Homo sapiens: one gene and its partners. The protein of the gene in region 4 interacts with the protein of the main gene of each other region in a pairwise test. Each region holds a gene or a part of one and is shown on either strand. Other genes may lie near its edges.

Region 1 (8,076 bases), on a different chromosome or scaffold from region 4:
CCCCAAATGTGAAACAGGAACCTTCAGGAGGAATTTCTCAGAGTTTAAAGGGGGTGACTTTTGCACACAGAGGTGCTTTGAGAACAGGACCCCCAAGACCCTGGCAGTGGGGACAGGCCTGGCCCCAACACTACATGTGGGTGTCCCACAGCCCTGGCTGTGTGTCTTCAGGTAAGTCACTTGCCCTCTCTGAGCCCATCTCCACATGGAGGGTGAGCACAGGCTTCAGAGCCACTTCTGCCTTCCATCTCCAGGCTGAGCAGCAGGGTGGCCTCAGGATGTGGAAAGCACACAATCCTCCATAAAAGAGCTGGGCTAATTCCAAATGAGGAACATGTACTCCCACATCCCTGGTGGAAAACCGAGGGTCCGGGAACCTATGCCTTCTACCAGCAGCTCTTTCGATGCCAATGGGTGGCAGGAGGCCATAGCCAGGCATCACAGGGTGTGTCTGCCTTGCTTTGATTTACACATGCATTCACGGGGTCTCAGTTTCTCCTCTGTAAAATGGACACAGTCCAGTTCTGGGGCAGGAGTTCAGGGGTGAAGCCAAGAAGGCACCAGCAGAGCATGCCTCCTGCTACCCCCTCTCCAGGCCCTTCCTCCAAGGCCCTTCCACGGATGCCAGGGGGGTTACCTACAGCCACTGGAACCCTGCTTTCCTGGACAATCTCCCAGATCAGGGAGTGCTGGGGCTGACCTGGGAGCAGGGCCAGGGGCCAGTCATACAACAAACATGATAAACTCCTACTCTGAGCTAGTCTCCCCCGCGCCCTGCCCTTCTCCCAGGGCGCTCATGGGAGATGAGGGAAGACCACTTCCTGCCTCTCAGGAAGATCAGTCTGTCCACACTACTGTGCTCTTCATATCTACTCTAGGAAAACCAGTGGTAATGGCCCCATTTTAAAGATGGTGGGAAAAACACACATCCCCGTGCTATGTTTTTGGTTTTTGTTTTGTTTTGAGACAGAATCTCGCTCTGTTGCCCAGGGTGGAGTGCAGTGAGGTGATCACAGCTCACTGTAGCCTCGAACTCTGGACGAAAGCAATCCTTCCACCTTTCAGCCTCCCGAATAGCTGGGACTACAGGCGCATGCCACCATGCTCAGCTAATTTTTTTTTTGCATTTTTTGTAGATACGGGGTCTTGCTATGTTACCCAGGTTGGTTTCGAGCTCCTGGACTCAAGCAATCCGCCCACCTCAGCCTCCCAAAGTGTGGGATTAGAGGCATGAGCCACCACTCCTGGTCAGTGGTGTTTTAGTGTCAAATCCTCTCCAAAGGCTCCCAACCCCCCAGCCTCTAACTTCACAGCACATTTCACAGAGCAAGAAACTGAGGTCACATGGCAGGGGAGTGATGGAGTCCAGATGATGGCATCATCCCTGCACCAGAACAAGTACCCTCCCTGGGCTCCACTGGGCCTGTCCACAAGCTTGGGGGCAGGTATACAGTGGGGAAACTGGGGCACATGGGGAAACTGAGGCACAGAGGTACAGCGACTCACCCCAGGTCACAGGGGGGATCCTAACCCAAAACTCCAACAAGGGGGCCAGTGCCTGGGAAGTGGTCATGGTGGTCAGAGGCAGAGCCAGGGCCAGGCAGGATGAACAAGAGCACAGGGTGCCAGACTAAGCTCCATTCCCAGCACAAATTCCAAGGCAAACAGCCTTTTGTATGCAAATATGCCAGAGCCTCCAGATACTCCCTGGCCTTGGGCTGACCTTGGGCAAGTCAAGGCTATCCAAAGGGCACTGGCACCCACGCCCCCAGGCTGTTGTGCCAGTAGAAGGGGCTCCTCAGGTAGTACCAGGCCCTGGGCAGGCCTTGCTCAAACACAGGAGCAAAAGTGCTCATCACCCCAACACCAAATTAGGGACTCTGGACATTAGGCTGCCAGAGTCAAACTAAATAAACCAAATCCACCAGCGCCAGGAACAAGTCTCAGCGCCCACTTTGCTGAGCTGCGGACCTCTGCTCGGTGAATTAGCTCCCTGAGCCGCAGTTTCCCCAACTGTGAGAGGAAGCCATTCTCCTGCCACCTTCCTGCCAGTTCCCTGGGGCTGCAGGCTGACAGTGTGACCTGGTCCAGCCCACCCCACTCCGGGCCTCAGCTTCCTCCTGCGCAGAGCCTTAGCCCCGCAACGCCTGAGACGCCCAGAACCCTCAGGCCTAACGTTCGTGGGCAGTGGCCGCGGAAGTAAGCTTTTGGGATATCTGAGACCCAGAGTTCCGGTTTGGTTCCGTTTCTAAAAGGGTTAGACTTTAGAATCATTCAAGGAGCAAGGCCAGCATTCGAACCCCGGAGCCTTGGGCACGGGAGCAGACAACTCTTTAAGCACATTCTTGAATTCAAACACTTAAAAGTAAAATAAAAAGCAGCTTCTCTTCCTTCCAAAGGCCTCTGAGCCTCCTCCGAGACAGCCGAGGCGATCCCAAGCCTGGCTACAGGGTGACCTCGGACAGCCACTCCCCTCTCGCAGGCTCAGTTTCTCCATCTGTAAAGTGGAGCTGCGCTGGTCACCAAGGAATCGTGAAGATGACACCTCCCTCAGGCGCAGAGAGGGCTCCCGGCTCCCCCCTCCCGCCCCCGCGCCACCCGCCCGCCAGGTGAGGCCGGTTTCGACTTCCCCGGGAGGGGCGCGGAGGGGCCCGGAGCCTGCGGCGTGGAGAGGCTTGGCCGGCCGCGCTGTCCGCAGACGCCCGGGACCAAGGCGCTGCGGCCACTCGGGAACGGGCGCGCGGGCTGCTGCGTGCAGCCGCCTGGTTTCGAACTGCTCGCTGCCAGGCTTCGGCTCCGCTAGGGCGCCTGCTGGGCCGGCGGAGGGTCGAGGAGGTTCGTCCTCGGGGCAGATCGTTGCTGTGGCCCCCACCCACGGCTGTGCGGCCCCGCGACCCCCTCCCCTCGGCTTTCCCGTCTGTGAAATGGGCGCAGAGCCCCGCACGCGGCCACTCGGCCCCAGCCCTCACCTGTGCGGTTCCCTGGGGCAGGCGTGGTGACCCCGGCCCGCCCCCGGGGCCTCGCCTTGCCACGGAGGGTGGCGGCCGCCCAGCGCATCCTGCGCGCTCCGAGGCGCTTGGCGGGGTCTGCCAGGGGAGTGAGCCCGGCTTGTGGGGGCGGGGCCTGGGCCTGGGCCTGGGTGAGGGGCGGGGAGGCCCCGCCCTCCACGCCCGCCCAGGGGCGGTTCCATGCAACTTACAGACCACGCCCACACGTTGGACTGGGGCCGAGGTCCGGCCGGGGGCTGTGGGCGGGGGCCCTTGGGGAGACCAAATACCCAGCGGGCCAAGGCAGCCGGCTGAGCGGAAAGTGTTGCTACTCCGGGGCGTTGCACGCGTGGCTACCTCTGCCCAACACCCTTCCCCCATCCCTTCCTGTTCTCACCTTCACTCCTAGTGTGGTTTTTCCATGTGCTTCTGTGTTTTTATTTTTTGAGCAGGATTTTGCCTTCTCAGGGTGCCGGATTCGGCCGGTACCAAAGGGCAAACAGCAAAACGCCTCCCCGGCCCGCCCCTCCCGTAACCCACTCACCCCCAGAGTCCTGTGTGGACCCAGCCTTCTTTCCCTGTCTCTCACTGGGCCAGGCCGTCTGAGGCACACTGAGGTCTGGGTGCCCTTGTTGTCTTCGGTTCTCACTGAGGGGCCCCCGGCTGGGGGAAACAGGATGGAAAGCCCTGGGGTCTGTCTGCAGGGCCCACCACACCTGGAGGCCTCCCTTCTCCTGGCTTCCCCTTCCCACCCAGCTCCACTTGCAGCAGGCCCAGAGCTGTGATCCGGGCTCTTTCTCTCCCTCTGACCCCACCCAACCCAGGCTTAGCCCCCTGCCCAGGCAGCCACCAAAGGGTTGGGTGTGGTGTCAGGCCTCAGACATCCTGGATCTTGGGCTGCTTGTGGGAGACCACCTGAGCCATGCCTATTCCTGTGGAGCTGGCAAAGGCAATCCTGGCAGAGGGAACAGCAGGTGCAAAGGCCCTGGTTTGGCAATGTGTGGCAGCAGAAGCCCAGTGCGGCTGGCTTAGGCATGCCTCCAGGAGCGCAGAAGGTGGCCCAGGTGGGCCAGGCTGGCTCTAGAGTGCCTGGCAGGTGACCGTGAAGAGTGTGGATGTTCAGGTGGACCATGAAGCAGGGTTCCAGCAGGGCAGCCCCTCCCCGTCTCTGCTTTCCGAGCCCTCCAAAGCTGAGGTTCAGTGTGAAACGTGAGGGGCCCTCCCCCTTTCGCCATCAGGGTTGGCGTCACCCCTGATATGTTCTTCCCACTTGGACTTGTGGGTCACACACGATGGCTTACTTCAATCTCCTTTATTCAAAATCAAGCATGTGTATTCTTTCTGCCATGTCGGGAAGGGCAGGGCCATCAGCAGTGCCCACTCCAGACCACACTCTGGGACCCCAGAATGTCTTGCCAAGTGGCCCCTAGCCCACCTCTCAGGCCTGTGTGGTCCCTTCCCTGGTTTTGCCCACCATGCACCACCAGGCAGAAGGCCACTGCCTGTAGGTGCATGGACAGGGCTGGGAGGGAGGTCTGGGGCAGCCCTCCAATAGCTGGGTGGAGCTAGGTGGGGATGGAAAACACCAGGCTGCCTGCAGCTCCCTAAGCCACCACGCTGTGACCCAGGCCTTCAGGAGCCTTCAAATGCTAAACACCTGGCCATTTAGGAAGTGTGTTTCCTAGAGCTGTGTAACATAGTACCCCAGACTGGGTGCCTGAGAACAACAGAAATTTATTGTCTTATGGTTCAGGAGGCCAGAAGTCTGAGATCAGGGTGTCGGCAGGCCTGCAGTCCCTCCAAAAACTCCAGGAGAACAGCCTTCCTTGTATCATCCAGCTTCTGGCAGTTCCTTGGCCGGTGGCAACTTAACTCCTGTCTACACATGGTGCTCTCCCTGTGTCTCTCTGTGTTCAAATCTCTCTTCTAAGGACACCAGTCATATTAGATTAGAGCCCACCGTAATGTCCTCATCTTAACTTAAGACCCTATAAAGAGTCTGTAAAGACCGGCCAGGCTCAGTGGCTCACGCCTGTAATCCCAGCACATTGGGAGGCAGAGGCAGGTGGATCATAAGGTCAGGAGTTTGCGACCAGCCTGGCCAACATGGTGAAACCCTGTCTCTACTAAAAATACAAAAATTAGCTGGGCATGGTGGCGCGTGCCTGTAGTCCCAGTTACTTGGGAAGCTGAGGCAGGAGAATCACTTGAACCCGGGAGGCGGAGGTTGTGGTGAGCTGAGATTGTGCCACTGCACTCCAGCCTGGGCAACAGAGCAAGACACCATCTCAAGAAAAAAAAAAAAAAAAAGAAGAGTCTGTAAAGACCTTGTCTCCAAATAAGGTCATATTTGGAGGTACTGAGGGTTAGGACTTAAACATATAGATTTTGGGGGACACAGTTCAGCCCCTGACAGGTGGGATCAAGGAGGAAAGAGCATGTTTTTCTGAGCAGTCTGTCGCTTGGTTGGGTTGTGGACATTCAGGCTTGTGGCGCTGGGCCTCCATTTGTACTGTTAGGGGACCTGGAGGTGGCCTAAGGACCTCTGTCATGTCGTTTCCACAGGGAACTGTATGCCTTGCTGTGGCTCAGAACACCCATTTGCTGCCAAAAGGCCATCTTCAGGAGCTATGGGAGGGATCTGAGGCTGGTTCTGGAGGTGGGCCTGTCACCTATTTGAACACTGATCAGGGCCATCTTGTCCACCTTTTCCCAGGCCCTTGGAATGGTTTGCTCCTAGAAAGCCCAGCTATTCTAGCCATGCACGTGGGCGAAACTGAGGCATGTGAAAAGAACGGCACTGGCCCACTAGGGACAACCGCCTGGGGTGCCCCCTTCCATGGTGAGAACCATGGCTCTCTGACAGGCTTCCCTGATCCCTGGGGCAGGGGTGGGCACCCTTGCACTGAGTCTTCGTGTTCTCATCTGAGGGGTGGACATTGTCCTGCCACCCTCTCAAGGCAAGTGAGAGACTGTGATGTGCTCAGGATGGAGTGGTGGCCTCTAAGCTGGACTGTGAAGGCCCGTCAGCTTTTGAGCTTGGCCCACCCGCTCAGCTGTCCTAGTTGCCTGGTTTCCCAGACTCTCCAAGTCTAGGCACAAACTGGGAGCAGTGCTTAGGCTCTGCCTGCTTGGGTGTGTCTCCTTGCCTTCCTCACCCTCCTTCTCCATGGAGCCCTCCCTGATGGCACTCCCTGTCAGAGCCATTTCGTGCTGCCTGTCCTTAAGGCCTGCTCAGCCTGTGTCACGTCTCTGAAATGAAGAGGACATGTGGCCAGGTGTGGAGCTATGGACATGTGGCCGGATATGGCCGAGAGGATCACTTGAGGTCAGACACACCTGTAATCCCAGCTACTTGGGAGGCCGAGGCACGAGAATTGCTTGAACCTAGGAGGCGGAGGTTGCAGTGATCTGAGATTGCACCACTGCACTCCAGCCTGGGTGACAAAGGGAAACTGTGTCTCAAAAAAAAAAAAAAAAAAAAAAAAAACGCAAAACATATGGGCTTCCCTGCTGGAGGAGGCAGGGGAGGAGGCTAGGAGGAACGGATGGGCTGCTGGCTGCTGGTGAGGCAGGCCGGGAGAAGGAAGCAGAGTCAGGCACAGCCTGAGGAACTGACCAAAGCCACAGCCTCTTCCCAGCTCCATTTGCAACTGGGAGCACACAGTGCACTGTCAGTGGACACTTGTTGGATGGAACCTGGGAGGCAGGGGAGGCCTGCCAGCCCTGGGGCTCAGTGTTCCACTCTGTAACATGGGGGTCTTGTGCGCTGCCAGAGGTTTCCAGAGGAAGGTGAGGGTCTGGCTTGGGAGTTTCCTCTTTCCTCAGACCTTAGCTGAGGTGTTGCCACCCCCAGGAAGCCTTCCTCAACCCTTGATTTGCCTGACTCAGCACCCATGGGCCATGGTGGCCTGGGAGGGGACCCATGCAGAAGTCTGGTGGTGGCAGAGTTCTTGGCTTGGTGAGTTTTTCTAAAATTAGATAATAATTGTGGAAATCTAAAACAGTTTGTTTTGCCTTTTTTTTTTTTTTTTGACAAAGTCTTGCTCTGTCACCCAGGCTGGATTGCAGTGGCATGAGTTCAGCTCACTGCAACCTCCACCTCCTGGGTACATGCAATTCTCCTGCCTCAGACTTCCAAGTAGCTGGGATTACAGGCATGCACCACCACGCCCAGTTAATTTTTGTATTTTTAGTAGAAACAGGGTTTCACCATGTTGGTCAGAGTGGTCTTGAGCTCCTGACCTCAGGTGATGCACCCTCCCTGGCCTCTCAAAGTGCTGGGATTACAAGTGTGAGCCACTGCGCCCAGCCTGTTTTGCTTTATTCTTGATTTTAGTTTTTACTCAATAGAAAAATGAGATTTTTGTTCTGAAAACCTCTCACAATAGACCACGTCCAGAAAGTTCTTTTGCAAAAGGTAAGAGTCAGGGAAGCATTGGTGGCCTCATGGGTGTCCTCTCTTTTTAAAAACTGTATTACCTTTTAAAAACTAAAAGCAAAAAAAGAAAAAAAAAAAGTAACCTGACCTTGAAGCTCTAGCAGGCCAGATGTTTGCAGAGAAAACAATTTTCCCAAAAATGTTTTCTGCTGGGCCATCTGGAGCCCTCAACACCCACCACTTATCCTCCTAAAGCAAGGCAAGAGCCCTGTCCCCACTGTGCAGAGCGACAAAGGCCCCTCCCCGGGGGTACTCCCCTGCTGGGGCCTGAGCTGTGACCACCAGACTGTCCTACCTGGCTGCAGCCTGCACAAGCAGATCAGTCAGCCTGGGTGACATGACATCGAGCTGCCGCCCTCAGGTTCAGAAATGGTGATGCAGAGACACAAAGCAAGGCGCCCAGAGGGCAGAAGGAATGACAGATTCATGGAACAGCTACTACCAAACACCTACTGCATGCCAGGCCAGTTTAGAAGCTGGGATACAGCTGGGCCTAGGAGGGACAAACTCTGGCCAGGGGCTGCTCCCCCCATGCTCATCCTGCACACCAAGGCCTTTACCTGGCCACCACTGGGCTGGCAGATAGCAGGTCATCTTTTTTCCCACCCCTCAACTCTTTTTGTACTTTCTGAATTTTCCACAATGAGC
Region 2 (7,881 bases), on a different chromosome or scaffold from region 4:
AGAGGCATGTGAACCAGAACAACTCCATCTTGAATAGGAGCTGGGTACAATGAGGCTGAAACCTACTGGGCTGAATTCCCAGACCATTAAGGCATTCTAAGTCACAGGATGAGATAGGAGGTCGGCAAAAGATACAAGTCATGAAGACCTTGCTGATATAACAGCCTGCAGGAAAGAAGCCAGCTAAATCCTACCAAAACCAAAATGGCCATGAGAGTGACCTCTGGTCGTCCTCACTGCTACATTCCCACCAGTGCCATGACAGTTTACAAATGCCATGGCAACGTCAGGAAGTTACCCTATATGGCCTACAAAGGGGAGGCATGAATAATCCATAATCCACCCCTTGTTCAGCATATCATCAAGAAATAACCATAAAAACAGGCAACCAGCAGCCCTGTGGCTGCCCTGTCTATGAAGTAGCCATTCTTTTATTCTTTTACTTTCTTTTTTTTTTTTTTTTTTTTTGAGACGGAGTCTTGCTCCGTCACCCAGGCTGGAGTGCACGGGCACGATCTCGGCTTACTGCAAGCTCTGCCTCCCAGGTTCACGCCATTCTTCTGCCTCAGCCTCCTGAGTAGCTGGGACTACAGGTACCCGCCACCATGCCCGGCTAATTTTTTGTATTTTTAGTAGAGACAGGGTTTCACCATGTTAGCCAGGATGGTCTCGATCTCCTGACCTCATGATCCACCTGCCTCAGCCTCCCAAAGTGTACTTTCTTAATAAACTTGCTTTCACTTTGCACTGCACACTCGCCCTGAATTCTTTCTTGAGCGAGATCCAAGAACCCTCTCTTGGGATCTGGATCGGGACCCCTTTCCTGTAACAACTTTGGACTTGGACTTTTGAGTAAATGCTGGGATGAGTTAAGACTTTGGGGGATTGCTGAGAAGGGATAATTGTATTTTGCAATGTGAGAAAGACATGAGACTTGGGAGGGCCGGGGTGGAATGACACAGTTTGGATTTGTACCCCCACCCAAATCTCATGTTGAATTGGAGGAGGGGCCTCATGGGAGGTGATTGGATCATGGGGGCTGTTCTCGTGATAGTGAGTGAGTTCTCACAAGATCTGATGGTTTAAAAGTGTGTGGCACTTTTCCCTTCACTCTCTGCTGCTCTGCCATGGTAAGATGTGTTTGCTTTCCATTTACCTTCTGCCATGATTGTAAGTTTCCTGAGGCCTCCCACCCATGCTTCCTGTACAGCCTGTGGAACTGTGATTCAATTAAACCTCTTTTCTTCATAATTACCCAGTCTCAGGTAGTTCTTTATAGCAGTCTGAGAATGGATACAACCCTTCTTTACAGGGGAGAGAGAAGATGGGGAATGTAAGCAATTCTTTTGAGGGGCAGTAAATGATTAGGGAGAATGAATAGACAAGGCAGACACATTAACTTGTAAATGATTCTCTTTGCAATTTGAATGAGCAGGAAAGGCAGGCATTATCTTGTGAAAAATTCCATCCAAGCATGATTGCATTCTTCAGTCTTCTTCTCTGCCATAGATCATGATATTTCAGGGATGGGATACAAACTCTTGGTAAGAAGTTTTCTTGGCCAGGCACAGTGGCTCATGCCTGTAATCCTAGCACATTGGGAAGCTGAGGCAGGAGGACTGCTTGAGCCCAGGAGTTTGAGACTAGCCTGGGCAACAGGGGGAGACCCCATCGCCAGTAAAAATTTAAAAATTAGCCCGGCGTGGTGGTGCACACCTATGGTCCCAACTACTTGGGAGGTTGACGTGGGAGGTATCATCCAAAAAAGTATCAGAGATAAGTCTCAATTAATTTAGGAGTTTATTTTGACAAGGTTAAGGACATTCCTGTGACACAGCCTCAGGAGGTCCTAACGACATGTGCCCAAGGTAGTCAGGTACAGCTTGCTTTTAAACATTTTAGGGAAACATGAGACATCAATAATTATGTGTAAGATGTGCATTGGTTGGGTCCAGTAAGGCGGGACAACTCGAAGGGTGCCGAGGTGGGGGTCTTTCAGGTCAGAAATAGATAAGAGAAAAAAGGTTGCATTCTTTTGAGTCCTACATCCGCCTTCCATTGAATACACAATTTAGTCTGGCTCAGTACACCTGCATTTTTACATACACCGTAGGGCAGAGGAGGCAATCGAATACACATTTGTCTCAGGTGAGCCTCAGAAAGATGACTTTGAGTCATGTCTGTCCTTTGTCCACAAGGAAATTCCTTGTGGGCAAATTGTGAGGGGGATATGTAATTTTGATCTTTGTAGCTACCTTATTTAGAAATAAAATGGGAGGCAGAATTGCCTGACATAGTCTCCAGCTTGACTTTTCCCTTGACTTCATGATTTGGGGGTCCTGAAATTTATTTTTCTTTCACAACGGTAGTGAGGCATGTCTGACTCCCCCTTCCCATCATGGCCTGAACTAGTTTTTCAGGTTAACTTTGGAATGCCCTTGGCTGAGAGGAGGGGTCCATGCAGATGGCTGGGGGTAGAGAAGACTTAGCTTTATTTTTGTTTCACAGAGGACTGCTTGAGCCCCAGAATTTGAGGCTTCAGTGAGCTGTGATGGCACCACTGTACTTGATCCTGGACGACAGAGCAAAACCCTGTCTCAAAAAAAAAAAAAAAAAGCTTTCTTGGTGAGACAAGGAAATTCCAGAGAGAGTCTTCCCCTATGCTTGGGGTTGAGCGGAGGAACAAGACAAGGTTAGAGGTACCTTGATTCTGAGGCTTGTTTTCTTTTAATTCTCAAAAGCACTCCGTATGCTCAAACACCATATTTTGGGGAATCGTTTTCTGTGACCCAACAGATGAAAAAAAAAAAAACATTTCAAGAAGGAGAAGAGGTGGATCAGAGATGTGAGAGGGGAAGTAGAGGGTCCTTGTTGCCTCTTACTAAAGACTCAGTGGGCTGATTGTGGCCAGTGGTCAGGCAGATGGCTAGACAACAGCAGGTACATTGGCATTCCCCACAGGAGAAAGAGGAAAATACAGAGGTGGCAGAAACCTGAGGGGTCACCAGCCTCAGCCTCACTCTCTATTGCCAAGTGGGCCCCTTATTCATCCCATTTCAGAATATCTCCTCTCCCCTAGCATCATCTTTAATAATTTCACCTGGTTAATGTCTGTACTCAACTCCTGCTGCTGCAGGCTAAGCTCAACCTGGCAGTATGAACAAAGAAACCCACCCATTAAAAAGTACCCTCTAGGCCGGGCACAGTGGCTCACGCCTGTAATCCCAGCACTTTGAGAGGCCAAGGTGGGCAGATCACCTGAGGTCAGGGGTTTGAGGCCAGCCTGGTCAACATGGTGAGACCCGGTCTCCACTAAAAATACAAAAATTAGCCAGGTGTGGAGGTGTGCGCCTGTAATCCCAGCTACTTGTGAGGCTGAGGCAGGAGAATCGCTTGAACCCGGGAGGCGGAGGTTGCAGTGAGCTGAGACTGTGCCACTGTACTCCAGCCTGGTCGACAGAGCAAGACTCCATCTCAAAACAAACGAACAAACAAACAAACGAACGAAAAGTGCTTTCTAACCTCTTACGTACGTGCCTTTTTTGTGGAGGTCTGGGGAAGGGGGGGCCCTACTACCGAATGAATCTACTCCTTGGTGCCTCTTGGCACCTAATTGGCTTGCAAAGCTCAGCTGTGGGGTCCGTTCCTGCGAGAAGCCAGCAGGACTCCCCATGGAAGGTTTCCCCCAGGCTGGGCCCCTCTGACTTGTGAGACTTCCAGCAGCACTTTTATCTACAGTATTGGAGGGGTCTGATGAAGCCTCTGGGTTCCCCTCCTGGACTGAAGACAGGTTCTGATATAATTGCCGGACGGGTTCTCCTTGCCCGTTGCCCAGAGCTGATTCATCAAGACAGGGGAATTGCAATGGAGATTTTAATTCATGCAGAGCCGGCTGAATGAGATACCAGAGTTTTATCACTCAAATAAGTCTCCCCGATAATTCAGAGACTGGGGTTTTTTAAGGATAATTCGGCTGGTAGGTATCAGGCAGTGGGGAGTGCTGATTGGTCAGGTTGGAGATGAAATCATAGGGGGGTCTAAGTGGGTTCTTCTTGCTGTTTTCTGTTCCTGGGTGGGATTGCAGAACTGGCTGAGCCAGATAACTGGTCTAGGTACTGCCAGCTGGTGCCTCAGAATGCAGGGTCTGAAAAATATCCCCAGCACCGATCTTAGATTTTACAATAGTGATGTTATCCCTTGGAGCAATAGGGAAGGTTTGGAATCTTGTGACCTCTGTCTGGATGACTCCTAAACCATAATTTCTAATCTTGTGGCTAATTTGTTAGTCTTACAAAGGCAGTCTGGTCCCCAGGCAAGAAGGGGGTTTGTTTTGGGGAAGGGCTGTTATCTTTGCTTCGAAGTTCAACTATAAACTAAATTCCTCCCAAAGTTAGTTTGGCCTATACCCAGGAATGAACAAGGGCAGTTCGGAGGTTAGAAGCAAGACGGAACTGGGTAAGTCAGATCTCTTTCACTGTCATAATTTTCTCACTTACAATTTTTGCAAAGGCAGTTTATCCGAATGCTCCGCATGTGTGTACCCTCAGCGACTACACAGCTCCTGTACTATAAAGAATATTTCAGAATGGCTTCGGTAGCCGGCAGCACCTTCCTCCTCTCGCAGCAGAGAAGTGTTTTGCTCTGGAAACTTGACTGGAGCCTTTCCCAGCCTATCTAGCGAACAGCAGAGCATCATCCCGACTCCGCGGACTACCGCGGCCCAACAGCAAGGGTCGCGGCTCCCCGGCGCTCTCTGCCGCCCTCTACCGGAACCGAGGGAGCCAGACAGCTGCGATATTGGGAAGGCCTCCGGAGCCGCGAAGAGCGCACGCGCGAGCGCGCGCCCGCGTTCTCCTGGCGGGCTTGGTATTTGGCGCCTGCGCGCTGAGTGCGTGCCGCTCCGCCGACCGAAGAGGCTGGTAAGTCCTCAAGCTGGCAGGTGGTCGGGGGAGCGGCCGGAGAGGAGCTGCCGGGAGTTCGTGCCCTGCAGGTCTGCGACGCTGGCGTTCGCTCCTGCCTGGGCCACTTTGGTGGGCTCAGAGCATCGCTTTTTGCCAAGGGGCGTGACCTGAGCCCGCCTCCTGGGGCTGGGGGGTGGAGAGGAATGGGAATCGTTAAGGCCGGTTATCAATTTGGTGCCTGTTTGTTGCTCGAGGAGGGGCATAGAGCTTACAAATAGTGAAGAGGAAGGGGCGAGGCTGGACCAGGTGGGAGCGGGGGTGCCCCAAGTCCCAGGGCGGTGAGGATCGAGGCAGGTGCGTGAAAGGCAGGCCCCGTTCCCCCTCCCCACCCCCGCCGGCTGTGTGTGGCGGGTAAGAGGAGAGTGGGTAGCACTACTACAAAATGAGGGTCCCGATAGAAATCGTACAGGTGTTGGGACCACACTCAGGGCGGCAACTTGTCATTTTTGCGTTTTTAATTTTCTTATAGAAACAAGCGATTTCTGTCGTGATTCACTGGGGCCGCTAACGTGCACTCCCTCTTTTCATCTTAGGACATGACACCAGTGGCATATCACGGCCATGGGGTCTCAGCATTCCGCTGCTGCTCGCCCCTCCTCCTGCAGGCGAAAGCAAGAAGATGACAGGGACGGTTTGCTGGCTGAACGAGAGCAGGAAGAAGCCATTGCTCAGTTCCCATATGTGGAATTCACCGGGAGAGATAGCATCACCTGTCTCACGTGCCAGGGGACAGGCTACATTCCAACAGGTGATCATGGAGGGATGATTCCCTGATGAGAATCCCAAGGTACCCTCGGAGTTCTCCTGTCTGCCCAGACAACTTTTCTTCTAGGCAGTAATACCATAATAGAGACAGTGCCCTGGACAGGAGCCAGCTCAACTGACTTAATACACTTGGGCAGTTCTGCAACTTCTCTTCCTCTCCTTATTTTTCCAACCCTTTCTTTTCTTTACCGCCACTCTTGTTCTTTTCCTGAGGTTTGGAACATTCAGTTCGCTCTGTGTTGTGGGATTTGTTGACAGGCACATTTCTTTATCGCTGTCACAAGGATTGGGACAGCTTTGCGGGGGAACCATCTTGGAAGCTGCTTTTCAAGGAAATGGGTAGCTAATCCTTAACAGCCTAAGGTCAGAAAAATATATCAGGTCAAGAGAGAGAGACAAATACTTAGCCTTGGTACAGGATCATCTATTACTATTAACAAATTGGCCCTCAGAAAGTCTTTAACAGTTTAGCTGGAGAGTCACAGAAATTTAGAGCTGGTTAGGACCTTCAAAATCATTTACTCCAAAGCTTCCATATGAAAGGCAAGGAAACCATGGCCTTGAGAGATTCGACGACTCTGCCAAGCCCATGCAGTAAAGCCAGAACAGGATCCCAGGTTTTTCAACTTCCACATCACTACCCTGGCAGCACTGATAGATGTTTTATAATTTGTGGCACTCTCTTGTTTCTTGTTCATTAGACCCAACATGTGAATTTCACTAGTATTTTTTAAAATGTCTCATTCCAGAAGAATATTTGTTGTGGCAGGCTCAAGTGAGACGTGAAGGAAGTACTGCCAACACATGGGATTTACAAAATAATTGTTTGGCTCTTTTCTAGAGCAAGTAAATGAGTTGGTGGCTTTGATCCCACACAGTGATCAGAGATTGCGCCCTCAGCGAACGTGAGTTACCTGCTTCTCACCTGTTAATACCTACTTCTGTCCCTAATCTCTTTCTGTATGTATGAATGCCAGTTAATTCTTTGAAAACTACACATGTTCTTATAAGTTCCCCATTTTCCTTATAACTGTTTGCCCAAGCAAGATATCTCTGCCCCCATCACAATCTGGGGAAAGAAACTTGAAGCTGGAAATGCTTTGAAGGTCAAGGAATGGAATCAGAAGAAACTGGGAAAGTGGAGTGTTCTGGGAGGTGTGGGACTGTCTCTGTCCACATAGCTCCTTTCTTCAGCTTTTCTTCCCAGAGTGCAAACAGTGTTTAAAGGAGTTTTAAAAGGTTTCTCCTGCTTCACTGCTTCTTAACTGGTTTATGGTTCCTGGCTCTTGGAACTTCCCTTTCAGCTCCCTTCTCTTTCCTGGTTTTGTGTTTAATCTTGACACATTGAACCTTGATATCTGACTGCCTGGGTCGGTCATGTGCTGTGTCATTTGCAGTAAGCAATATGTCCTCCTGTCCATCCTGCTTTGTCTCCTGGCATCTGGTTTGGTGGTTTTCTTCCTGTTTCCGCATTCAGTCCTTGTGGATGATGACGGCATCAAAGTGGTGAAAGTCACATTTAATAAGCAAGACTCCCTTGTAATTCTCACCATCATGGTAAGCCTTAGGGTTTCATTCCCTGGGTTGTGCACCTGCCAGGCTGGGACCCAGGACACTTACACTTGTTTCCTGACTTGCCCTGATGTAGGCCACCCTGAAAATCAGGAACTCCAACTTCTACACGGTGGCAGTGACCAGCCTGTCCAGCCAGATTCAGTACATGAACACAGTGGTCAGTACATATGTGACTACTAACGTCTCCCTTATTCCACCTCGGAGTGAGCAACTGGTATGCTGTTCTTTTAGGAATCTTGCCCCACAGGCCTAAGAGAAGAGTAGGGGGCTGTAGGAATGCCATAGCTGTGTCACTTTCCTTTTTGTCTCCTCATTTCTACTTGTAGGAACTGGTGATGAGGAAGACCTGTTGGGCCCTGTAATTATAAATAATTGTGAGAAAAAACAGCTATCATTTAAGCATTTGGGGAGCAGAATAATTTGTAAGAGACAAAGATTTGCTACAAAATAAGAAGCAGCAGTGTTACAGCCTGAGGTCCATTGGCCTCTCAAAAGGGAAGAGGTTGGCAGTATCAATTAGAGGCTCATAGACTATATTAGGGACAATCTCAGGGAAGTATTTTGCATGTGATGGAAGAAT
Region 3 (7,265 bases), on a different chromosome or scaffold from region 4:
GTTGCTGAAATAGAAACCCCCTGAATATTAACAATAAGTTAGTATCATACTCATGAAATCCAAGTCTAGGTGCCCAGAATTTTTTGTGCTAATTCTGATCTGTACTTTGTTTTTTCACTTGTCATAAAACTATTGAAAATATCTGGGAAAACACAACGTTTTGTTAACTAGATGCATACTTGCACATACCCATTCGGAGCATATAAACTGAAGTTTGGCATAGTGCAGTGCAAATTTGACTGAAACTCCTAAACTGGATGCCTTCCACTACAAGATTGTGTAGTTAAAATGACTAAATCTAAAAAATTAGCTCCCAAATGAACACAGTTTAAAACTGGTAAAAGTAATTTTTATACTTGTGAAATATGCATCTACATTTTAGGAATCAAGAGGAACTAATTAGAACTTTATTTGAGCAGCAGGGAGAAGTTGGAACCCACCTGCTTCATAAAGAAATAGGCCCTTTCTTATTCTAGGTTCATTGACTAAACTAAACCTATTTTAAATTTCAGATGAACTGCTAACAGTTTGACTGCAAATTGGTTTCTAGCAATTCTGTGGAGGAATTCTTTCATATACTGTGATTTAACAAAATAGGAGAGGAATGTGGCCAATGCTCTTGTCCCCCCCTTCCCTATTTGACAGTTAAGCAGAGACTTAAACTTTCTAATTATTGCTGTTGCCTTAAACAGCTTGGATTTTCAAGCCATACTTTTTTGGAAATTCTAAATACTGTACTAGTCTTATTTTTGGAGATAACAGTTTAAAGAAACTAGCTGTTAATTTTCCATCAGTGTTAAACATTTACCAAGATGGTATGGCTGTGTTTTAAAAGTGCAGATACTTATTGATATCAAACAGCATCTCTGCAAATTGTTCTAGCAAAATTAACTTGTCACTATAGACAAAAGTTAGGAGGATGTGATTATAGCATTCTTTTAACCAACAAAATATTAAAAATAAGGTGGTTTATTTTAGTATCTTCAAGCCAGATTGTGAAACTTTCATCCTAGAATTTAAATTTTACCTGTATAGGCAAAGGAAAAGTCAAAGTCAAAATTTCCTAATAATTCCATTCCCATTCCTGTTAAGATGGCGGTATTTGGAGATGGCCAGTATTCAATAGGAAGCTTCTTAGCCTGAAATGTTTTACATGACTATCTTATCCTCTTGAGTTAATCTTTCAGAGAAAACTGTGGGCCACCCACCTCCTCAGAAGTTCATAGATGTCAAGTTAAGACTTCACATCTACCCAGAATATGACATTTACAGTACCAGACCCACTTAGTATTTCATTGTATATCTACTATTGCCTGTGTCACATATGCCAGAATGAACAAAAAGAGAAGGTAGTCTTGAAATTGGTCAAAACCGTTGACTTGGGAGTCATTATGGTTTTAACTTTTAAGTGCAATGAAATAACCAGCCATTGTTAACACAGTTATATAAAACCACTAGCATTTTTGCCCGGTGTTTTGAAAATGAATATGTGCCATGCAATGGAAATCTGTGCATGGAAATATAAAATGCAAAGTGACTGCAGGGTAGATCTATATAATCAGAAATGGAAAGAGGTCAAGACAGACTAATCATTATTTGTTTTCTATGACATTGTGAATTGTTATGAATAACACAGAAGTAATTACATTTTAAATTTTCCAGATAGCTTCTTTTGAGGGATACTGTAAATTAAAATTTACCCTTAATTAAAGGAAATTGATTTTGAAAAGAAACTTCTAAATTCCCTAATTTAACATTCATTTCCTCCTAAGATTATTTTAAAACCTGTACCAGGTTATTTTTTAATGTCTTTGCTTATTTATTTAGTAGCAAAAAATTCACTACAAATGCTCTAGATGACAGACTATCATGAAAAAGCATAATATTTGTTGACAGAGTCATCTGGTATCAACATTTTAATAGATAGTGTCAAATATACCTTTCCTCTGAGATGAAGTCCAAAATGGTAACAGTAGAAGATTTCATCTGGCCTTACATCAGTTTCTCCAAGAGTAAAGGGTATACTTTTTAGCCACCATAGCTTTTTACCGTCAACATAGTCATCAAACACCCTCCATCCACAAACACAGACCAGAGGACACATGAGAATTTTGTGTTCTCATACGAAGTAATTCCTGCCCTCAGGGTGCTTCTAGTCTGTGGTGTGATTCACAATGCAGTGGCAGCTAGGGAAATCCATAGAGGATGCAGAGATTTGGCAAATGATACGGCACAAAGCTTTGGCCTTTTCACTTAGAAGCACAAAAATGTTAAATTACTCATTTTTTTCATAATTCACTGTATTCATAATATATATTGTGGTTGTCGATTCTCTCTTAGCTCAAAAAGGTTCACCCAAATTCAAATGATAATCCTGAATATTCAACAGTTTTGTCTACACTAAAAAAAGAGATGCTGAATGTAGCAGAAAATTTAAGACGTTCATTTGATGACTGTGTCCCAAGTATTCCGATTTAAGCCTGTATACTTCTTGGAATGTTATACTGACATAGACCTAAAAGTCATTTTTTACAGTTTTCCAGCTAAATTAGTAATATTAGAATAAAATTTACACATAGAATTCATTTCATCTTCTACTGTTTCCTTGTCTTCTTCCCAAGAGGAATTTTTGATGCATTAATTTCAGAGGAGAATGTTGTTTCCCAGTGTTCACTTTTTGTATTAGAAAGTAGTGGTTTTCCTCTGAAATACTTGCATAAAATTTTAATGAAAAGCAAAAATTATCTGACTACTAGAAAATTCTGTGCAATGACATTAAAGCCTTACACCCAAAATTACAGGGCGGGGATTCACAAGTGGATGCAAAGTATCCCCCAGGGTTGACTTGGAAATGGGTCAGATTTGACCTTGGGCAGGCCTGCGCCAGTGTGCGCTGGATGGTGCAGGTGACGGTGCAGCTCTGCCCCCGACTCACGGTGCTTTCTTGCGGTCTCTCCAAGGTACCTACCAGGGCCAGTGGGCCGGAGGCATGCGGCATGGCTACGGCGTGCGCCAGAGCGTGCCCTACGGCATGGCCACGGTGATCCGCTCACCGCTGCGTACCTCGCTGGCCTCGCTGCGCAGCGAGCAGAGCAATGGCAGCGTGCTCCACGACGCCGCAGCCGCCGCCGACAGCCCGGCCGGCACCCGCGGCGGTTTCGTGCTCAACTTCCACGCAGACGCTGAGCTAGCGGGCAAGAAGAAGGGCGGCCTCTTCCGGAGGGGCTCCCTTCTTGGAAGCATGAAACTTCGCAAGTCCGAATCCAAGTCTTCCATCTCGAGCAAGCGCAGCTCTGTCCGCAGCGACGCGGCCATGAGCAGAATTAGTTCCAGCGATGCCAACTCCACGATCAGCTTTGGCGATGTAGATTGTGATTTTTGCCCGGTGGAAGACCACGTGGACGCCACCACCACGGAAACCTACATGGGCGAGTGGAAGAACGACAAGCGCAACGGCTTCGGCGTTAGCGAGCGCTCCAATGGCATGAAGTATGAAGGGGAGTGGGCAAATAACAAGAGGCATGGATATGGCTGTACCGTGTTTCCTGACGGCTCCAAAGAAGAGGGAAAATACAAAAATAATATTCTGGTCCGTGGGATAAGGAAGCAGCTTATACCAATAAGACATACAAAAACTAGGGAGAAGGTGGACAGAGCAATTGAAGGCGCCCAAAGGGCAGCTGCCATGGCCAGAACCAAAGTGGAAATAGCAAATTCAAGGTAAGTAAATGCAGGGTGGTTGGTTTTGCTGGGTTGGTCAGAACAATGGAGTATCAAATATTATGTTTGTCTATCTGCCAGTGACATCGCTAAATGCTTTCTACAACTACTAAAAAATCAAAGGTGAAAAATGATTACACTCAGTAGAATCAAAGTCAGAAATGTACCTGCACTGTTCTGAAACTTCCCATCATCAAAAAATGTCGAAGGCACTTTGAGCTCCCCTTCCTGTTCTAAATTACTTCCCTCATATTTAACAGCGTGAGGGAGTTCACTGAGACCCTGTGCTCATCTTCCTGAGCCCGGAAAGTTGCTGTTTTCTTTTCTTTTTTTTGTAAGAAGGACCTCTGAAATGCTGCCATAGCAAGCATTGTGTTTTGTGTACCAAAAGAAAATAGCAATCCACGTAGAAACATACTTAGTATAGATGTGTACCTTTATTCTGATATTTACATCGGAGGTATGTACACTTAGCCTAGCTTATACAATTCAGATTCTGTTTATGAAGTCTTATAGGTAAAATTGGTTTTGAGACAGCCACCAAAATCTACATATGGCAAAAGTGGAAAATAACATGACAAAATCTGGCATGCATTGTTAAAAACAACAGCTACATGGGAAAGGCAAAGAGACCTACAAGAATCGCCACATTCTATGCAGAAGAGATTAGGTCACTGGTGTATTAAAAGGAAAGGGGTGGAGGGAACCTGACAACCTGACATGGACAGATGGGACTCTCAATGTGCCAAGGTTGGAAGAAAGAAGAGCAGTAGAGAAGGGCTGGAGTGAGTAGGAGAAAACCGGTGAATAATAGATTGACAAGTGGGGTGTATGTGTGGGCACAGAAGGACTACGTGCTTGAAGTTTTACCATTAATAGCTGGTTTCAGGGATCCAGCAAGAGGGATGGAAAAATCTATTGGGAATAAAGTTCTATTAGGGAAGGATATCATAGGTGAGACAAAAAGAAAAAGGTGTGGTAATAAATGGAAAATTTTATTTTTAGTCTTATTTAAGTGAGTACTGACTAGCCACAGCTTTGTAAGACTTGAAGCATAAATGTAGCATAGAATATTAAAAATCCTGTTTCTGCTTCAATAACACTCTTCCACAGAAGTAAACGCCCTTTTGAAACCACAAAATGTTAGCATGTCTTCAGGTTTTTGTTATTGGCATTGAATTAATGAACCTCCCTTTTTTTTGATGGAGCCATATGAAATTTCCAATGTTCAAATTTTTTAATGTACAAAAAAAAATGGTGACATCATATGGTTCAACTTAGTACTTCTAGAGTTCTTTTTTTTTTAATTCCTCTACTTAAAAAATAAGTAGGGCTACCACTAAATAAGGTTGCATATTTTGCATTACTTTTAGATATATATTATATTATATATTAAAAGTCTTCAAGGTTTTCATCTTTATCCCAAACTAATTTCATTTCAAAGCTATTATTTTTTGTTGATCAGCACAAACTTTAATGAAGGGTCTCTCTCTCTCCTGTCTTCTCTACCAGGCATCTTTTACTTCAGATCACAGTTTTGGATCTACTTTGCTTTTCAGTTTGCTTATAGATCAGATACTCAGCACATCTAATCTTGCTGGCTTACTTTTAGACCTAGTGATAAACATTTGTTAGGCCTTGACCTCTAATTTTAAATGCACACTTGGATTCTTCCATGTTTTCTTGTTACAACTTAGTGACATGCTAAAGTCAGCTCAGTCTTGGGAGGTGAAAAATGAACCTGTGCAGAACACTTTAACAAACGACTTATCATTAGTTTCCATTGGAGGAGTTTGTATAACAGAAAGCGACTGGCAATGCAGAGATGATCTCTGATTATGCTAGTATCATAAAACCCTCACCCAAGTCCTAGCCATGTTCTCTCTGTTGCAAGTCTTTTGGGGGTAGTATTATTTCATTTGGGAATACTGTATTATATAGTTATAATCAAGAGATCTTTAGTTTAAGACCTTATACTTTTAGCCAGTTAGTTACTTCATAGTTACTTAGCTATGTTTAAAATGCTTAATTCATTATGCAAATGAAAGAAGTCAGTCACAGAAAAACAAATACTGCATGATCTCACTTAATCAAATACTGCAATGACCTGACTTGATCTAAAATGGTCAAACTCATAGAAACATAGAGTAAAATGGTGGTCGCCAGGGACTGTAGGGTGGGGAAAATGGAGGGTTGCTGTTCAACAGATACGAAGTTTCAGTTACTCAAGATGAATACATTCTATAGATCTGCACTACAACACTGTGCCTATAGTTAACAATACTGCATTTTGCATTTAAGAATTTGTCAAGGTCAGGTGCTATGGTACATGCCTGTAATACTAGCACTTTGGTATGCTGAGGCAGAAGGATCTCTTGAGCCCAGGAGTTCAAGACCAATCTCTGCAACATAGTGAGACCCCCGTCTCTGCAAAAAATAAGAAAATTAGCCGGACACGGTGGCGCACACCTGTCCTAGTTACTTGGGAGACTGAGGTGAGAGGATGGCTTGAGCCCCAGAGGTCGAGACTGTAGTGAGCTGTGATTGTGCCACTGCACTCCAGCTTGAGTGTCACAGCAAGACCCTGTCTCAAAAAAAACAAAAAAAGAATTTGTTAAGAAGGTAGGTCTCATGTTAAGTGTTCTTACAACAATAAATAAAATACTGTTCGGATGACACAATCAACAAATTAAAAATAAATATATTCAATTAACCTTCTATATTTTACTTACCTTCACTGTTTTAGTCCTTTTCCCAGATTCCTTGCTATTATATAATGAATACTTCCGATTACAGCTTTGTAACTTGTTTTTGGAGGAAGCAGTTAAAGGAATGACATTCCCCTTATAATAGCTCTGATTTTAGAGTTCTACAGTCTTTTAAAACCCTTAAAAATTATTCACAATAGCAAAGACTTGGAACCAACCCAAATGCCCAACAATGATAGACTGGATTAAGAAAATGTGGCACATATACACCATGGAATACTATGCAGCCATAAAAAATGATGAGTTCATGTCCTTTGTAGGGACATGGATGAAATTGGAACTCATCATTCTCAGTAAACTTTCCCAAGGACAAAAAACCAAACACCACATGTTCTCACTAATAGATGGGAATTGAACAATGAGAACACATGGACACAGGAAAGGGAACATCACACTCTGGGGACTGTTGTGGGGTGGGGGGAGGGGAGGGATAGCATTGGGAGATATACCTAATGCTGGATGATGGGTTGATGGGTGCAGCACACCAGCATGGCACATGTATATGTATGTAACTAACCTGCACATTGTGTACATATACCCTAAAACTTAAAGTATAATAATAATAAAATAAAAAATTTTAAAAAGCCTTAAAAATAAGAAAAGATTCTTTTAAGATTTGCTGCCTGGGAGATAGGACTTTTAGCTACATTATTGTCATTAACCATGGCTCTTTCTAATGCCAGAATATCTACACAATATCTGTACAGAACATCTATCTGACCCCTCTATGGTTGCTGTTATCAATGTTTTTGTTTGTAAAACTACTGAAAATTTAAG
Region 4 (7,359 bases):
AAATTCCAGAGATTACCTCAAAGCAGTTAGTCAACAACCCGGCCATTGTGGGGATGATGCCAGCCCATGCTCCAGGTGGACCATGACTCAAGATAGCCACCAGAACGAGACGCACGGACCTGTACCCAGCACCACTCCTTGCATGCCACCCACTGCAAGTTCCCTTTGTAAGCCCCTCTCCCCAGGCTAAAGTTTGAAATGGTTCCTTTAAGGCACAAGCCATGGCCACTTCTCCAGTGCTAGCTCTGGAATAAAGCTTCTTTCTTTTCACTGCATCTTGTCCTTGTTATTGGTTTTGCAAGCAGCCAAGCCTGCATTTGGTTACATTTTATTGTTTTAAAACTACTTTCAAATGCATTACTTCTAAAAATTCTCAAAATTACTCACTGATGTACTAGAATATATCATCAGATATGATGCCTTGAAAAGCTCTAGAGCTCTTTCTTAGCTTGCTTCTTCGAACATTGGCTCAGGTAGCTTCTCTCTCCCACCTCTCTCTACATTCCTTGAGTCACTACTTGAATTTAAGTCTTCAATAGATAATGCACACTTGTTGGAAAGAGCTCTGGATGTGTGGGCACATGACAAACGACTGATTTTCCCTCAGAATCGCCTCTCAAGTCATCCAAATCCAGATGCCCAGAATTGTTTCCTTTATCTCTTCTCTATCATCAAAAGACCTAGAGAGTAGGAGGATGCATAGAACCTGCTCTGAGGCAATAAGACAGAGCAGGGATCTATCTTAGAGGTGAGCAGGGCACCCTCCCCAACCCAGCATGGAAATAAAGGAAAATCTTCAATTTCTTAGCTAGCCTTGAAAAGAAAAAAGAGGAACTAGATAAGCAAGAAGGTAATGCTAGCTTAAAACAATAACCAGGGAAGTTAGAATCAGGGGATGTTTGGTTCCCTATAGAAACTAAAAATAGCATCTTAACATACATCCCTGAGTTCTTCAGAAACTCAGACCCCCAACAAACAGATCTGCTGGCACATAGACCTCAGATAAGGGGGAAACTGAGGACTAAACTCTCACCACCGTTCATCTAAATTATTTCGAGTGGCCTGGAGAAAGTCACACCCATGATCCAAAGCTAACATTCTGTTCTGCTGACCCCCATTCTTAAACAAACTTTCATCTCCTTAACCAATTGCAAATCAGATGATCTTTGACTCTACCTATGACCTGTGAGCCCCTGCTTCAATACCTTGCCTTATTCAGCCAAACTAATGTGTAATCTCCACATTTTAATTTACTATTTTGCCTGTAACTTTTGCTTTCCTGAAATTTATTCCCGCCTTTATTTAATTATTTATTTATTTTTTTGAGACGGAGTTTCGCTTTGTCGCCCAGGCTGGAGTGCAGTGGCGCAATCTCGGCTCACTGGAAGCTCCACCCCCCAGGTTCACGCCATTCTCCTGCCTCAGCCTCCCCAGTAGCTGGGACTGCAGGCGCCCGCCACCACGCCTGGCTAATTTTTTTGTATTTTTAGTAGAGACGGGGTTTCACTGTATTAGCCGGGATGGTCTCGATCTCCTGACCTCGTGATCCGCCTGCCTCGGCCTCCCAAAGTGCTGGGATTACAGGCGTCAGCCACCGAACCCGGCCTTTTCCCGCCTTTAAAAACCCTTACCTGAAGTCATCAGAGAGGTCAGGTCTTCAGTGTGAGCCACAAGGTTCTCCTTGCTTGCTGCTTTGCAAATAAACTCCCTCCTTTCTCCTGCCGCAGACCTTGGTGTGGATATTTGATCTTACTGTGCTGGACGATCAGACCCCAGTTCAGTTCCATAGGAACAATATCTCTCCCGTGCCCCACAGAGTCTATCAGCACATGATTCCCTATTATTCAATGATTGCTTGACAGGAGCTGAAGTATGAAGAAAAGTTCTGGATATAAACGGAATATTCTGACATTCTAATAGCTAGGTGGTCCAGTGACAAACTCAACCAAGGTGGCTCAGGTAGGAGTGGCCTTGCGGATGTTGATAGAAAATACATTCAAGACCAGGTACAATGGCTCACGTCTGTAATCTCAGCACTTTGTGAGGCCGAAACGGGCGGATCACTTAAGGTCAGGAGTTCGAGACCAGCCTGGCCAACATGATGAAACCTCGCCTCCACCAAAAATACAAAAAACTACCAGGGTGTGGGGGTGCCCACCTGTAGTCCCAGCTGCTTGGGAGGCTGAGGCAGGAGATTCACTTGAGCCTGGGAAATGGAGGTTGCAGTGAGCCAAGATTGCTCCACTGCACTCCAGCCTGGGTGACAGAGGGAGATTCTGTCTCCAAAGTAAATAAATAAATAGAAAAAGAAAATACATTCAAGTATCTTACATTATCCATAAGTGAAACCTTTGGTTACTGTTACTGAAACAATATTCGTTGCATATACCAATTTAGGGGGAGTTGGTATGAAACGTGCTGGAAATTCCAGATGTGATATGGAAAGGTCACCCATGGGATGCTCACACAAACTCAGTTTAAGGGCTGGTGGTCTTGACCAGAGTGAGCTGAGTTTAGGGCTGAGTCTTGAGTTCCTGAAAAACAATTAGGTCAACACCTTGTGATGCATACTTCAGAGTCAGATGTGATATATAGGAACATTGTGGAAACTATGGCTAGGCTACCTGACATTTTACTAAGGCAGTAAGGACTACAGCGTCAGCAAAGGTTATTGTTAATGAGGACTAAACTCTGATTTTTTTTATCTTGCCCAAATTCCTATCTAAGGGGTCTGGGGAGTCATGCCCTACAAATCATCAATTCTCATCAGATGAGTTTTATTTAACCCTGTATATCATGTTTTACTTTCCAACCTGACTCTGGCATAACATTACCAGACAAACAAGAAAAAGTATTTTGCCCCAAAACATGTTTCTTTGCCACATTTTGAAATTGCCCTGCAAAGCTGTTCTTTGTGGGGGAAAATTTGCATCTGTAAAGAATCTCTATTAACATAGCTAAATATTTTTCTTCCAGACCTTCCAATCCTAAAGATATTAATTAAGATCTGAAAGGGAAACATTTGTCATCTATTGTCTCTAAGGGCAGCCACTATAAGACTTCGAAAGAATTGGTCTCTACCATCTTTATTTTAACCTGAATATTCCCTTTCTATCAATCTCAGGTCTTTAGACAAAACTAGTTGTCAACCAGAAAATGTTTAAATACACCTATGGCCTGGAGGCCCTCCACTCCCCATCAGCTTTGAGTTGTCCCGCCTTGCTGGACCAAACCAATGTATTTCTTAAATGTATTTGATTGATGTTTCATGCCTCTCTAAAATGTATAAAACCAGCTGTGCTCCAACCACCTTGGGCACATGTCCTCAGGACCTCCTGAGAGCTGTGTCATAGGCCATGGTCACTCATATTTGGCTCAGAATAAATCTCTTCAAATATTTTACAGAGTTTGACTCTTTTTTTTTTCTTTTCTTTTGTTTTGAAATGGTGTTTTGCTCCTGTTGCCCAGGCTGGAGTGCAATGGCGTGATCTCGGCTCACTGCAACCTCTGCCTCCCAGGTTCAAGCGATTCACCTGCCTCGGCCTCCCAAGTAGCTGGGATTACAGGTGCCCACCACCACGCCCAGCTAATTTTTGTATTTTTAGTAGAGATGGGGTTTCACCACCTCGGCCAGGTAGGTCTTGAACTCCTGACCTCAGGTGATCCTCCCGCCTTGGCCTCCCAAAGTGCTGGGATTACAGGCGTGAGCCACCACACCCAGCTGACTCGTTTCATCGACAATAACAAACTGCCTAGTAAAACTTCAGATACTGGCTACCTAATCATAACTATCTGGCCACCAGTTTCACTAGATACTCTTTCACCTCTCAACGAAAGTCCCACAGTTCACAATGTTATAAGTGGCTTTCTTCAGAGAAGTTTCTGTGTAACATAGCATAACCCTCCAGGGACTTCCCAGAACTTTGTCAGAAATTGAGTGCAGAAGCCAGGTCTCTCGTTGTCTACTGATAGCACCAGATAACCCCTTTCTGGGGTCACCTCACTCTAGGGTCTTGCACTTCTTCTGTGCCCTGGAGTCAGCCTTTGATGTTTGTAGCCTTTGCTTGAGGCCACTGTCTGAATAAACTCAAGTGTTCCAGATGAGAAGATACAGGAACAAGTTCACATAATAAGGCTATTCCCCATCACCACCTCCACTACCAATCAGCTGGAGCCTTGCAGCTCCCCCTGCTATTCCTTTCTCCACTGCTGCAGATTTCCAGGGCCCTGAGGAAAGGAGGACTCAGACTCTGCTCTTCAGATCCACACACTGATCCCAACTACAACCAGTGACCTGAACTTGGAGTCTGAGTAGGGTAAGAAGGGCTCTGCTGAGGATGTTTGGGGGACAGCCAGGAGCACTGAAAGGAGGCTGATTGAACTTTTAGATAGCAAACAATGGAGAAGGATCCAAATCATGGAAAACAAAGGTGTGAATTCTGGTCAGCCTCAGTCCCACTGATACAGGCTTTCCCTGCCCCTCCCTTCCTTCACCCCCAGTCTTCTCAAACACAATGCATTAAAACCGCTTACATCCTGCTCTTCTATCCTCTGTAGGTCTTTATCATCAGGACAGGGTTCCACAGATAGGAAGTACCGACCCTTTGTTCTGTGTCTGATGTGGACATTTGACATCATTAGAAGTGCTCTCAAATACATGCGTCTCATTAGACACTTGCAGGTCTGTAGGGAGCTATTATTAAGTCCATCTGAGGACACCAATGCTCAGAGTTGTGAATCAGGTTAGAGATTCAGTAAGGGCGGGAACACTTCTCATGGTAAATGAGGACAGAGCACTAGTTTAAACGGTAGACTCTTTCAAAAAGATCCCCACACTCCATGCTATCACCACAGAAGCCACTGTGGGGGCTCTTTTAGTCTTGGTGCTTGATTGATTACAGGAATATTTCAAATCTGGAATTCTGGTTGGGTGTAGTGGCTCATGCCTGAGAATCCCAGCACTTTGGGAAACCGAGGTGGGTAGATTACTTGAGGCCAGGATTTTGATACTAGCCTGGCCAACATGGCGAAACATTGTCTCTACTAAAAAAAATACAAAAATTAGCTGTGTGTGGTGGCAGGCACCTATAATCTCAGCTACGTGGGAGGCTGAGACAGAGAATCTATTGAACCCTGGAGGTGAAGGTTGCAGTGAGCCAAGACTGTGCCACTGCACTCCAGCCTGGGTGACACAGTGAGACTCTGTCTCAAAAATAAATAAACAAATAAAAACCTCAAAACTGGAGTTATTTTATGATGACATTTTCAAGGAGCAGCTCTGACAAACCAAGATCATTTGTAATAGTGATAATTAGGGGAATGACCCCTGAGAAGGAATATGGGTAGTTAGTAATGAACATACGTTCCACTCAGGCTTTGGAGAAAGTGTTATAAGGAAGTCAAGATTGGAGAAGCATCATTAAGTAATTGGAGAAGCAGGCAAGAAGTAATTGCAGGCTAGGCTGTCATTTTAGCGAATCGAAGCCTTCCTACCTAGGAACCACTTCCCAAGTAGTTACTCATTTTCTACATTTCCCTAAAATCTGACAACCCTTTCCACTTCAAGGACATAAACCTTAAAATATCATTCTCTTTTGGACACATGATCTCCTGAGAGTTGGTCTGGTAAAAAGGAGCCAGCTGGAGGGTGATTGGCTCCTCAGGTTGGGTGTAAGAGAGGGATGAGAGGAGATGGTTGGAATTCTCAAAATGAACTTCATCTATTTTTTCTAATTATGTGTTTCGCTTACACAGGCTGAAGCGTGTTTTTAGTTCTTAGAAACTCTATTCTCTAATGAGAATTAGCATCTTCTCATCGGGGAACCAAATAGTAAAATTGCACCCAAGTGCCTGCCTGGTGGGGAAGGAATTTTAAGGTGGAGTTCAGCTCTCTGGGCATTGTCTGGATAATGCTTTTCTTTCTCTTCTCTGTGGACACGCAGGCGGCCCCGGTGACTGAGATGGCATCGTCTCTAAAGATCTGGGGCACACTCTTGGCCCTACTTTGCATCCTATGCACACTGCTTGTACAGAGCAAAGAAGTTTCTTGGAGAGAATTCATGAAACAGCACTACTTAAGTCCAAGTCGAGAATTCAGAGAGTACAAATGTGATGTCCTCATGAGAGAAAATGAAGCTCTGAAAGACAAGAGCTCTCACATGTTTATCTATATCTCATGGTACAAAATCGAGCATATATGCACTAGTGACAACTGGATGGATCGCTTCCGAAATGCATATGTATGGGTCCAGAATCCTCTCAAAGTACTCAAGTGTCACCAGGAGAATTCCAAAAATAGCTACACAGAGAGCAGGAGCTTCAACTACATTGAATTCCATTGTAGCATGGACGGGTATGTTGATAGCATAGAAGACCTAAAGATGGTAGAACCTATCGGCAACTAGAAAGTCTATGCACATCCTCAGGTATTGGTAGAGTATTCAGTGCTTTCTAAGTAGCAGCCCCTGCCTCCATCAATAGTCCTACCACTCCCCTCTTGCATTTATTTGTCAATGTTTTCCAAATACTTAGAGTTATGAATAGCATAATTTCTTGATACCATAACTTTGCCTGTGTTGTTTCTCTGCCTGGAATACACTTTTGTCTTCATTTACCTAATTTACTCTTATACTTTTGTCGACATTCAGCTCATATGGCATCTGTTCTTGATTAACCCAAGACTTTCCTGATATTGACTCTCTTGATACATACCCAAGCTGAACAATCTTCCCTTCCCTAAATAAATTATATGACTGCAATGTGTGTGACATTCATATATGTTATGTGCACAGAGTGAGTATAGTGTGATTGATATGGGTGTGTGTGATCTAGACTATGCATGTGATTGATGCTGTGCAAGGGATTGAAGGTGTATTTTATGGGTGCATATCTAATGTATGTAATATGTTTGTGTATATGATGAGGGTATGAATGATTGTGTGCTTAGTTCAAGACAAGTTGTGATGTAGGCATTGATTGCAGCATCAATTTGAAATAATCAAAAGTGTCAGAATCCAGTTTTAAAGAGTTGATTCAAGCAAAAGGCTAGGAGTGGCCATTCGGTAACACACAGACTCCACAGAAATGGAGTCAGTGTTCCAAAGCTGAAAATTAAGTTCTTGCTTATGTAGGAAAAAGACAAAAGAATTTAACAGGATTACAACAATTTCTATAACAGCTGGTTTAAGAGTTACAACAAATTAATTAGTTACAGTTTGTCCCCCAAGTCTTCTTTTCTTTTCTTTATAGTTTTTCATTTCCTTTCCAATTTAAAAGAGTGTATTTAACATTCCATCTTAATGTGATAGCGATGAAGTCTTTCTAAGAGGAGAGGGAAGTTACTCTATCATGAAGATCAAC

Evidence for each region.
Region 1: the proteins of EDDM3B (region 4) and SUSD3 interact in binary tests that used the Homo sapiens proteins (3 or more experiments, as listed by UniProt).
Region 2: the proteins of EDDM3B (region 4) and TMEM106C interact in binary tests that used the Homo sapiens proteins (3 or more experiments, as listed by UniProt).
Region 3: the proteins of EDDM3B (region 4) and JPH1 interact in binary tests that used the Homo sapiens proteins (3 or more experiments, as listed by UniProt).

What each region holds. Positions count from the first base shown.
Region 1 is NC_000009.12:93,053,724-93,061,799, reverse strand, and holds the start of SUSD3 (sushi domain-containing protein 3), read right to left. Parts: upstream 3,100-8,076; 5' UTR 3,058-3,099; coding exon 2,970-3,057; intron 1-2,969. UniProt on the Homo sapiens protein: May play a role in breast tumorigenesis by promoting estrogen-dependent cell proliferation, cell-cell interactions and migration.
Region 2 is NC_000012.12:47,958,715-47,966,595, forward strand, and holds the start of TMEM106C (transmembrane protein 106C), read left to right. Parts: upstream 1-4,881; 5' UTR 4,882-4,990; intron 4,991-5,083; exon of another isoform or gene 5,084-5,255; intron 5,256-5,494; 5' UTR 5,495-5,522; coding exon 5,523-5,709; intron 5,710-6,567; coding exon 6,568-6,631; intron 6,632-7,123; coding exon 7,124-7,283; intron 7,284-7,374; coding exon 7,375-7,515; intron 7,516-7,881.
Region 3 is NC_000008.11:74,311,316-74,318,580, reverse strand, and holds part of JPH1 (junctophilin-1), read left to right. Parts: intron 1-2,960; coding exon 2,961-3,720; intron 3,721-7,265. UniProt on the Homo sapiens protein: Junctophilins contribute to the formation of junctional membrane complexes (JMCs) which link the plasma membrane with the endoplasmic or sarcoplasmic reticulum in excitable cells.
Region 4 is NC_000014.9:20,764,191-20,771,549, forward strand, and holds EDDM3B (epididymal secretory protein E3-beta precursor), read left to right. Parts: upstream 1-4,213; 5' UTR 4,214-4,316; intron 4,317-5,942; 5' UTR 5,943-5,960; coding exon 5,961-6,404; 3' UTR 6,405-6,758; downstream 6,759-7,359. UniProt on the Homo sapiens protein: Possible function in sperm maturation.